Linked DNA regions of Homo sapiens: region 2 is reported to be linked to region 1. The links are microRNA targets in miRTarBase. Many come from high-throughput screens and were not tested one by one. Region 1 holds a microRNA gene; the other region holds the end of a gene's coding sequence.

Region 1 (5,174 bases):
CTGTTTGAGGCAAATGTTAAAAAATCCCTTGCGCTACCCATTCTATGACGACTCCCTTGGCTCAGAGGCTCCATCAGGGCAGACACTTTGCTGTTTGTCCCTAAAGGGTGGGTGGTAGATCTCATCCATCTTATCTGGGGAGTTATTGTGACTCTCCTGGTCCCTCCTCATGTATCCTCAGGAGGACTTTTAGGATGCAAAATCACTGTTTCTGTGCCATTGTCATATTCTGTGCTACTGGAGGAGACTTTTTGTTATTGAGAAATTGAACACATCGTGCTCACAAGCAGCTCCAGGACACAATGCCACCTGTGCAGAGGGGGCAGACCTGTTAGATGTCTCCCAGGTCTTGAGGGGGTTGTATGCACGGCCATATCTTTGTCACCGGTTGCCCGGTGCGCATCAGGACCCATGTGCTCTCAGGAAGCCCGCAGGAGTGATACCAGCCGCGGAGAAGCAGTGTTGTCAACGGTGCTGACGTGCGGTACTTAATGAGAAGTTGCCCGTGTTTTTTTCGCTTTATTTGTGACGAAACATTCGCGGTGCACTTCTTTTTCAGTATCCTATTCTGCCTTGAAGACGTCTTGGTTTGGGTGCAACTTCAGGGAAGGCACATGGGCCCCTGTAGTGGACGCTGATCAGGACCTCCCTACCCCATGTCTTTTCTCCTTCCTAAATTTCTCCTTGTTTTTTTTTTTTTTTTTTTTTTTTATGAAAGCTCCCGTCTTCCCGCCGTGTGCTTTGATTGCATTGACCCTGCCCCACTTCCTCCACCAGCCCAGGCTTAAGCGAATCTCTTGATCTCTTCTCCTTTGCCACTGCAATTGCTTCCGGAATAGGCCCATGACCCCACTGGGCCAGTGATAGGCAAGGAGATGCTTGCTGCAGCTTCTGGGAAAGAAACTGTTTCTCCCTTTCCTGTGATAGCTGCCAGAGTAGACACTGTCTATTCCATTCAGCTGGGAATAGACAGTGAACTTTGACGTGAGCTTCGAAGGTCCCACAGCCGTTTAAGGACTGAGAGGAGAGGGCTTGGTGCCACGCAGACACAGCAGAGGGAGTCTGTACCATGAAAGGCATCTTGGAGACCTAGAGAAGAGCCTGGATGATATCATTTGAGTCCCTAGATCAAACCCTGCCTGAAGCTTGCTCTGTCTCTGTACTTTTTAGTTATATACGTCTATAAATCCCTTACTTGTTTAAGCCAGTTGGAGTTAGATCTTATCTTACTTGCAATACAAACAGATGATACCACAGTGTGTTTTCCAGTGTGACTGGGAAAGCCTGCATTTTTTTCAATGATGTGTTTCTCACGGTTTGCCTATCTATCTTCAGTGTCCTATTTAAGGCAGGGTTTTGGTGGAAGGTGACTTTTCTTATGGACTTATGCTTTCAAAGCTTTGTCTTAGTGATTTAATTTATGGTTGACAAATGATGCACAATTACCGTGTTTTGTGTCCAGCAATGGGTCACTGGGTCCTCTCTGGAAGGCCTGATGGATGGTGGGCCCCAGAACTTCTGCCCCGATTCACTCTCCCTCGAATCCACCTCTCTCTGGGAGGCTGCCCTGCAAGTGATGTGGACTTGGGGAAGCCGTTGTCCTTTCCTGGCCCCTGCTGTCCTTTGGCTCTCTGTGGGTTGGCTGTATTTGTCACAACTCACACTTAACTGTCAGTGTTTTAGAACCAAGCCATGCCTCCAGGGAACCCGGAGCACTTTAGAGAGGAGGTGCAGTGGTCAGCACCATGCAAGGTGCACAGAGAGATGGGTCCACCGAGAGCCGGGGCTGCCTTGGTGGTTTGTTTCTCCTGATTCGATATCTTTGTCTTCCCATCTCCTTCCTGGAACCATGGGCTCATGGAGGAGATTCTATTTTTGGGTCCAGGACCATCCCATTTTCTCTGAAGTGATGCTCTCCATGAGCATTTGCAGGGTTGATAGTAAACATTCCGAAAGCCGTCTGCCCTGATTATTGAATTCTGCCCATGAAGACTTCCTGGGATCCCGAAGTAGAGGGAGTCTGGGATCGGTTTGCTTTATCCGTGATGACTGTCCGCCTCTGCTCAGTGTCAGCCCAGCCCTTCGAAGCATGTCCCCCACCTCCCCTGGGGTGAGCCAACTTACCTGATGCTTTTAGGCTTAATTGAGCATAAGTTTGATTGGCAGCGTCTGCCCGGCCCTGCCCTCACGCCCTGACCCTCAGTGTCCCTTCACGCCCAGGTGTGCCTCTGGCAGGGAGGACGTGCTCATCTCTGGTACCTGAAAAGAAGTTGCCCATGTTATTTTCGCTTTATATGTGACGAAACAAACATGGTGCACTTCTTTTTCGGTATCAAATATCTCCTTGAAGTGCCTCCATCCCCGACGGGACCCTGAGCATGGGACCTGGTGTCACTACCTCTCTTGGTATGTACATGGAGGATTTGTCCTGGCAGCCCCTCGGTGACTTTGTGTGTTGGTGGGCTCAGGGACCATGCTCAGTCCTCAGTCCTCAGTCCACGCCCACCTCTCGGACAGGCACAGTTGGCGAGGCCTCAACCACATGCCAGTTCCCCGCTGCCAGGGAGGCTGGGGAGATGCACTTCCAGGCTCCATTGAGAAGCGTTCCCCAACATTTGAGAAGAGTTCAGATCATAGCAGCCAAGAAAAAAATAAAAAAGGAAGCAGCTGCCACAACAACAAAAACAAATAAGCAATGAAGACCCCTGCCCCCATCCGCTCTCTCCAGAGGCTTGAGGGGATGGCTGAAGGGGACATGAGGACATGCCATCTGGGGGACTGCCACCCGCACCTCCACAGAAGAATTGATTGGGGGTAGCAATTGTGGCAGAAGGCGTCCCTGTGGTTCTGGGAGATGGGATTTCTCAGAGTGGTGATTTACTGGAGCCTAATCCTCCCTGCCCCGCTCTTTCTTTACTTTTCTTTTCTTTTTTTCTTTCTTTTTTTTTTGACACAGAGTCTCGCACTGTCTCCTGGGCTGGAGTGCAATGGCACGATCTTGGCTCACTGTAACCTCTGCCTCCCAGGTTCAAGCGATTCTCTTGCCTCAGCCTTCCAAGTAGCTGGGATTACAGGCGCCCGCCACCAGGCCCAGCTAATTTTTTGTATTTTTAGCAGAGACGGGGTTTCACCATGTTGGCCAGGCTGGTCTTGAACTCCTGACCTCATGATCCACACCCACCTTGGCCTCCCAAAGTGCTGGGATTACAGGCATGAGCCAGTGCGCCCAGCCCCCGCCCCACTCTTTCTAGGTGCCAGTTCTGCCTCTGAGAGATGTGCTCCTTGATCACCAGCATCAGAGAGATGGTGTCTGACATTGGTGTCTGCCCCAAATCGGGAGCAGTGAACAATGGCTGACGGCAGAACACATGCCTTCCCGAAGACACTGCTGTCCGGGTGTCCAGTCCCCACATTCAGTCCATCCTTGGGCCCTGGAAGAGAAGAGGTTTCCCCAGTGTGTTCATTTTATTTGTGACGAATCATTTTTGGCCACTCTTTTTTCAGTATCAAATCCCACTTGAAGGGAAAGGCTGTTTGAGCTGGGAGCTTTGGTGGCATCAGCAGCTCTCTGGGGTGAGTGATGGGTGTTGCCCAGAGAGCATACGCGTCATCCCCACGGCCACCTGGTCCTCTGAACCTCAGCATCCCTGTCCCCCGAACCTCAGCATCCCTGTCCCCCAGGAGGGCTTCCTGGAGCTCTGCCAGCCAGAACTAGAGGCTGTGGGACTGCTCTCCGGGCTACACTTTGGTACTGGAGGAGAGGTTATCTGTGTTTTTTCCCTTTATTTATGATGAAAAATATGGTGCACTTCTATTTGAGAATCATGTGCCATCGGGAAAGGTCAGAACCCACTTCTGGAAGGAGATGCTAACGGCAGTCCATTGGTGACACTGGGACCATGCTGGCCTCAGCAGGTGCCCTTCAGACAGTGGGCAGCTGCTCCACCCATCCTTTGGGCTCTGGCCTCCCTCCAGAGAACTTCCCGGTGGCAGAAACACTTTGGAGAAGCAGCACCGGTCTTCATGTCAGGACATTCCATCAAGAAAGGCTGTCCAAGCTGTGGCCTGCATAGTCAACCTGTTTTACTCATTTGAGTGCCACCTTTCTAAATGATGGGGTGCCCACTTCAGGGAAGGTGCAGCTGTGGGAGCAGAAGGCAGGCCCCACAGTCTGTATATGACACGTGCCACTTGGCCGGTGGACCCTCAGCCTGAGGACCTCTGGAGGGGACACTGGCTCTGAGTCCCCTGTGGAAGGGGAAGCACAGTTGTTGGATGACGCGACATGGACAGTTCTCTTTCGACCAGATCCTTGTCTCCCATCGAGGGGGGATTCTGCTCTCACTGCTGCTTATGTCAGGAGAGGGTCACTGTTGCCTCCATCACCTCAGGTACGTCAGAGGAGGGCCTCAAGGAAGCCTTGCATCTCTGATGGTACGTATCCTTGTGTGTTAACCCTTGCCGTCTGTTTCCTTTGCAGGAGGACACCCTGGGCTCTGGAAGAGAGACAGCACCCCAGAAGCCGGCCAGGAATGGTTGGAGGGAGGCTATTGGTGATGTGTTCACTCTGTGTGTGGCAGATACCCCACAGTGGACCTCCTAAAGCACTGAGTGCCTCCTTGAAGGACTTGCTGTACGTGGTGTGAAGTTCAGGAACACAGTGTGGGTGTCTGTCAGCCCCTCGCAGAGGGTATGTGCGCAGATGGTGGAACAGCTGGCAAGTGTTTTCCTTTATTTGTTTTTTCTTTTGAGAATTGAGACTTTATTGAATGAATCACCATATAATCCTGTTTCCTAAGGTAAATCTATACATAAAAAGTTAGGTCCTACACCACCAATTTCTTGTTAAGAAATGGACCAAGAAATATGAACAAAACCATGTGTAACACAGTTTTCAGAGTTTTAGAAGAATGGCAAAATATACACTAGCTTGTCTCTTGATTGCCAAAGCTTAAACTCTAAAGAATAGGGAGGACATAGGTATACACTGGAAAAAAAAATGGCAAATACGTGAGGAGGATGGGAATGTTTGTGACTACATGGGAGGCAAACTGATTTTTTTTTTTTTGAGACGGAGTCTCACACTGTTGCCCAGGCTGGAGTGCAGTGGCGCAATCTCGACTCACTGCAAGCTCCGCCTCCCGGGTTCATCCCATTCTCCTGCCTCAGCCTCC
Region 2 (5,000 bases), not on the chromosome of region 1:
GAGGTTGCAGTAAGCCGAGATTGCGCCATTGCACTCCAGCCTGGGTGACAAGAGCAAGACTCCATCTCAAAACAAAGAAAAAGAAAAAGAAAAAAGATAGATTATGTGTGTGTGCGTGTGCGTGTGTACAGTAGGCCAGTAGGTCGATGGTGGGAGGGCATGTGTCTCTTTGAGGGTGTGTGTGCCTGTGAGTTCAGCGGTCAGGAAGGGGCGCATACTCCTGTCCTGAGGTGGGGTGTAGATGCCAGTGGGAGGCCATGAAGCAGAGCTTTGCAGAGGCTGTATGTCTGACAATTGTCCTTCCCCGCTCCCTCCTACAGACCTTCGCCCTTTGCCTGATGTCGCCATGACAGGCACATGTACCCGGGAGTGCAGTGAGTTTGGCCACTCTGACACATGCTGGATGCCTGGCCAGTCATCTCCCAGCCGCCGGACCAAGAGCAGCGCCCTCAAACTCTCCACCTTCGTGCCTTACCAGGACCGAGGAGGGCAGGAGCCTGCGGGCGCCGGCAGCCCCAGCCCCCCGGAAGACCGGAACACCAAAACGGCCCCCGTGCGCCTCCTGCCCTCCTACAGTGCCTTCTCCCACAGTAGCCATGATTCCTGCAAGGACTCGGCCACCTTGGAGGAAATCCCCCTGACCCAGACCTCGGACTTCCCACCCGCAGCCACACCGGCATCTGCCCAGACGGCCAAGCGCGAGATCTACCTGTGAGCCCCCTACTGGCCGGCCGGCCCCCCTCCCCCAGCCGCCGGCCAGCTCCCAAATGGCCCATTCCAGGGCCTCACTCTCCACCCCTTCAGCGTGGACTTCCTGGCCAGGGCCCCAAGTGGGGGTATCACTGACCTCATGACCACGCTGGCCCTTCTCCCATGCAGGGTCCAGGTCCTCTCCCCTCATTTCCATCTCCCAGCCCCCAGGGGCCCCTTCCCCTTTATGGGGCTTCCCCCATCTGATGCCCAAGAGGGCTCCTCTGCAATGACTGGGCTCCTTCCCTTGACTTCCAGGGAGCACCCCCTCGATTTGGGCAGATGGTGGAGTCAAGGGTGGGCAGCGTACTTCTAACTCATTGTTTCCCTCATGGCCGACCAGGGCGGGGATAGCATGCCCAATTTTAGCCCTGAAGCAGGGCTGAACTGGGGAGCCCCTTTCCCTGGGAGCTCCCAGAGGAAACTCTTGACCACCAGTGGCTCCCTGAAGGGCTTTTGTTACCAAAGGTGGGGTAGGGACGGGGGTGGGAGTGGAGCGGAGGCCTTGTTTTCCCGTGCTGCTCCTGGACTGGCCCACCTGCCTGCCACATGCCCACGCCTAGTCCCATCTGGGCCCCCATTCCCTGCTGGTCATGCAGTGTCTGTATATAAGGACCTTGGAATGACGTCCCCATTTCTGCCTGATTTGCAACTTTTCTTGTTGATGTCGTGTTGTCTTGGGGGACCCCTCTGGGGGGGGACCTGCCCTGTGCCCCCTCCTCCCTGCCGCAGTGCCCCCCAACCCAGGCCTCTATTGTTCCATGTTGTAAATACCCCTGGGGCCATGGTGGGATGGGGGTGCAGGCCAGGGAAACAACGGGTGGGTGGGGGTGGGGACGGGGGTAACATTTGCCTATCAGCAGAGCTGGGCTTTTATTTAATTTTTCTTAAAAATACAAATCTCTATTTTTTTGGAACTGTTGCGCTGTGCCCTGGGGGGATCCCCGCTCAGGCTGGCCTCCCACATCCAGATGAGCATCACAGAGGGGCCCTGAGGCTGTGGGGGGCAGCTGGACAGGGGTGGGATGACTGTGCCTCTGGCCTGGTTGGGTGAGTTGGGAGCAGGAAGGTTTGCTCAGGGGGTGGCTGGGTGCTGCTCCCGATATAGGGGGCCTGCATCCTGCCCCCTCCCTGCCCTCTCAACCCCCAGCCCCTGCCATGACTGACCCGTCAGCCTGTAAAACCACCATTGCCTTGATCTCAGGGGGTGGGAGGGCTGCCTCAGGGCACCCTGGGCTCCAGGCCCCCTTCTTCCAGTTGGGCTTCCCTTTGTCAGGGTCAGGGGTCCCATGGGGGAGGGGGTAGGGAGGTTGGGGGGCAGAGAAGCCCAGTCAGCCATGATGAGGTGAAGTTCTCTTCTTCACCTCAGGGGGCCAGGGTGTAAGGGGCGTCCTGCAGAGCCCCCGTCTCCCACTGTGGCCATCTCAAAGCCTCAGCCCCTCTTCCTTCCAGAAACCCCCACTGCCTTGGCCCATACCTCTCCAGCTCCCTAGGGGCCCAGGCTGGGAGGCTGGAGACTCAGGGTATGGCCCTTGCTTGACTTAGTCTAAGCTTGGGGAGGTGGTCCAAGATTGCGAGCGGTGGGTACAGGCTGCGGGGTCGTCTGGTGCCTTTGGGAGCTGTGCTGCTGGGGTCTTGACTCTTGTACCCCAGAGACCCCACCCCCACCCCGGAAAAGCCAGGGGCCTGAAGAATCACCCTATTTATCTGCCCCTTACCCCCAACTTGGCTTGGGGTGACAGTGCTAGGAAGGAGAGCATTGTTAGGCTGGTAGCCCTGGCATACGAAGCCCTTCTACAGAGGGGAAGGGGTAGAATGGGATGGGGTGGCAGCAGCCAGGTCTAGGGGTTGGCCAAAGGCTCCTTTCCCTTGGGGAGGCCCAGGAGATGGGCTTGGGGCTTGTTAAAGAGACAGCCCCTTTCCCCTGCACAAATGGGGCAGGTGCAATAGTCTTGGAGTTGGTAGTATTGGGTGCCCAGCTGGTGGAACAGTGGCCTCAAGGATTGTCCTGGGTCCTGGAGGTCAGGATTCGGGCAAGAAGATTGTATGAGGCCCATTTGCTTGGTGGAGAAGGTGGTCCAGACAGGCGGCATTCCTGGGGTCAGTGGACTCCCACTGGAAGCCCCTAGTGGCCTGGGTACCTTGCCCTGGTCTTAGAGACCCCTGAGCACTGAGCAGAAGAGCAGAGGAGCATTTTGCACAATGGAGAAGCCAGAAGAAAGAGGGTGGCCCAGATGGCTGGGAGAGCTGAGAAGCCCTTCCCACAGGCAAAGACAGAGCCCCCAGCCCCCTGGTTGGGGCCAGGGCACTGAGTCTGTCACCAACTGGGCACTGGAGAGATGAAACCAAAGGTGGGCAGGGGTTGGCGACAGCACTGGGGACTATCCCTGTGGGTCCTAGGTCTGTGAAGCCCCTCCCCAATGCCTGTGTCGCGTACAGTTTTATGTACCAATAGGCGACATTTGGCCAGAGGAGAGCCCCCCTCAAACCCAGCCTGACCCAGTCTGTGTCTTCCCAGAGGGGACCTAGTCGGTCCCCATCCCCCTACTTCAGGGCATGTCTCTCCGTAGGGGGAGGGTATATGGGGACATATTTCTCTCCTAGGGTCCTTGAAGCATGTTTCACATTCCGGGGTGGGGGGAAGTTCTCTGGGCATCCCTCACCTCTGGGGTCTCTCTAGGCCCTATCTCTCCCCTTGGGAGTCTCCGGGGGACATGTGTTCCCGCTGAGGACCACGGGAGCATGTCTCCCCCAATTACCCAGGCTCTCTGGGGAGCCTGTTTTCCTCCCAGGGTTCCTGGGAGTACTTAAGGCAAGTCAGTTTCGGGCCATCTCTCTTCCCAGGGAAGGGGGCTATCTCTGAAACACGTCTGGGAAGGGATGTTTCTGGCCCTACCCCCATCTCTCCTATGGGGGTTTCTCTGCCCTGCAGCACTTTAGGATGAGGCTGGGCATCTCTGAGTTGTCTTTTCTCCTAGGAGCCCTGGGATACCTCTCTCTCCCGAGGGTAGGGCCTCTGGAGCCATTTCTTCCCTGGGTCGGGGCTGTCTCCGGGTGTTGGGAGGGCTTGTGTTGGCCATGAGAAAGTCTCTTAAGGGGCGTCTCCACTGGGGACTTCTCTGGGAGGGGGGACTGTGTCCCGCCCATGGGGTTTCGGGCGGGTGTGTCTGCCCATGGGGAGGGGAGACTGTGTCTCCTCGGGTTATCTAGTGGGGAGGGGGGCCGTGTCTCTCTCGTGTGTAGGGGGGTGGGGGTCGGGGTGGGGGGTTTTGGGCGCGTCGGGTGCCCACATTGGGGTCGTGTTTCTCTTGGTTCGTGCCACTTCCCACTGCCTCGCTCCTCCCGGGAAGGGCCCCCGCCCCGCCCCACCCCACCCCATCCCTGGCGCTGCGAGCACAATCCCGTTGATTTGTAATGATTTCTGTCTCTTTCTGTCTTTCTCTTTCTCTGACCCCCCCACCCCCACCCCCACCCCCCCCCACCCCGCCGCGAGCATGCGCAGGCACCGCCCCTACCCCCTCCGGTTCGGTTCGTTTCCGGTTTGTTTGCTGAGCTGTCAATGAAAGACCCGTGTAATTATTCCCGAGCTTTACAATAAAAGTGTGAAAACCGGACCCCACTCAGCTTCTTCCGGGTCCTCGGGCCTGCGTCCCGTGGAGAGTGGGAGCTAAATCTGGAGGCCTTGGAGAGGGCTGGGGGACGCGAGGGACAAGAGACTGAGACCCGCACTGGTATTAATCGGGGATGGGGTCGAGCTGACGCGTTCTGAGGATAGACTCCTAGTCCGTACACCTCAAAGTGACCCCTGCCGGATCCTCTGGGCCCGACCTGCTGTGGGCACCCCCTCCCCGCAAGAACTCAGGTGCAGGATGGGGTGGGAGGTGACCGCAGGAGAGGTTTTGTGCTGCGCTGCCTTCTTCCCCGGGCGCCCGCAGGACGTGCAGTCGTTCCCGGGTGTATCCATTCCCGCTCCCCACTCTTTGGCAACGAGTGTGAATTGCGGAACTGGATAGGATAAGGGGCGGGAGACATCTGTCTGTCTGCCGCGTTCTCCCACGCTCAGGAACGAGGGTTGGAAGTCGATTTAGGGGAAAGGAACCGAAAAGGTCTCAGCCTCGGTCTCCGACTGCGCTCCCCTCCCCCCTTCCGGGCTCGACCGGCCCCGGCCTCCTCCGTCCGGCTCCCGGGTAAACACCCGCTCCGGAGAGGTCGGAAAACAGAGACCGGATCAGCCGGTTCCTGGCCCCGCC

What was found. The annotated mature microRNA hsa-miR-495-3p reads AAACAAACAUGGUGCACUUCUU and lies in region 1 at 2,303-2,324, shown strand. An mRNA with a match to its seed (bases 2 to 7 or 8) in the 3' UTR can be bound and repressed. Matches are read on the target gene's strand: a 7mer-m8 pairs with bases 2 to 8, a 7mer-A1 pairs with bases 2 to 7 and ends in A, and an 8mer does both.
Region 2: the mRNA of PCDH1 is a reported target of hsa-miR-495-3p. Seed matches in the 3' UTR shown: 7mer-A1 at 1,206-1,212.

The regions. Positions count from the first base shown.
Region 1 is chr14:101,031,502-101,036,675 of GRCh38, forward strand. MIR495 (microRNA 495) reads left to right here and starts at 2,254; the gene lies at 2,254-2,335. LOC124903407 (mucin-2-like) reads left to right here. Exons shown (of 5, transcript XM_047432049.1): 5 at 1-2,981. It overlaps MIR543 (microRNA 543), which reads left to right and starts at 486; the gene lies at 486-563.
Region 2 is chr5:141,849,757-141,854,756 of GRCh38, reverse strand. It overlaps PCDH1 (protocadherin 1), which reads left to right. Exons shown (of 5, transcript NM_032420.5): 5 at 321-1,667. The coding sequence ends at 715. Among named protein-coding and RNA genes, the nearest start is that of PCDH1, 26 kb to the left of the region's middle. RefSeq lists a silencer at 4,832-5,000 and an enhancer at 4,732-5,000.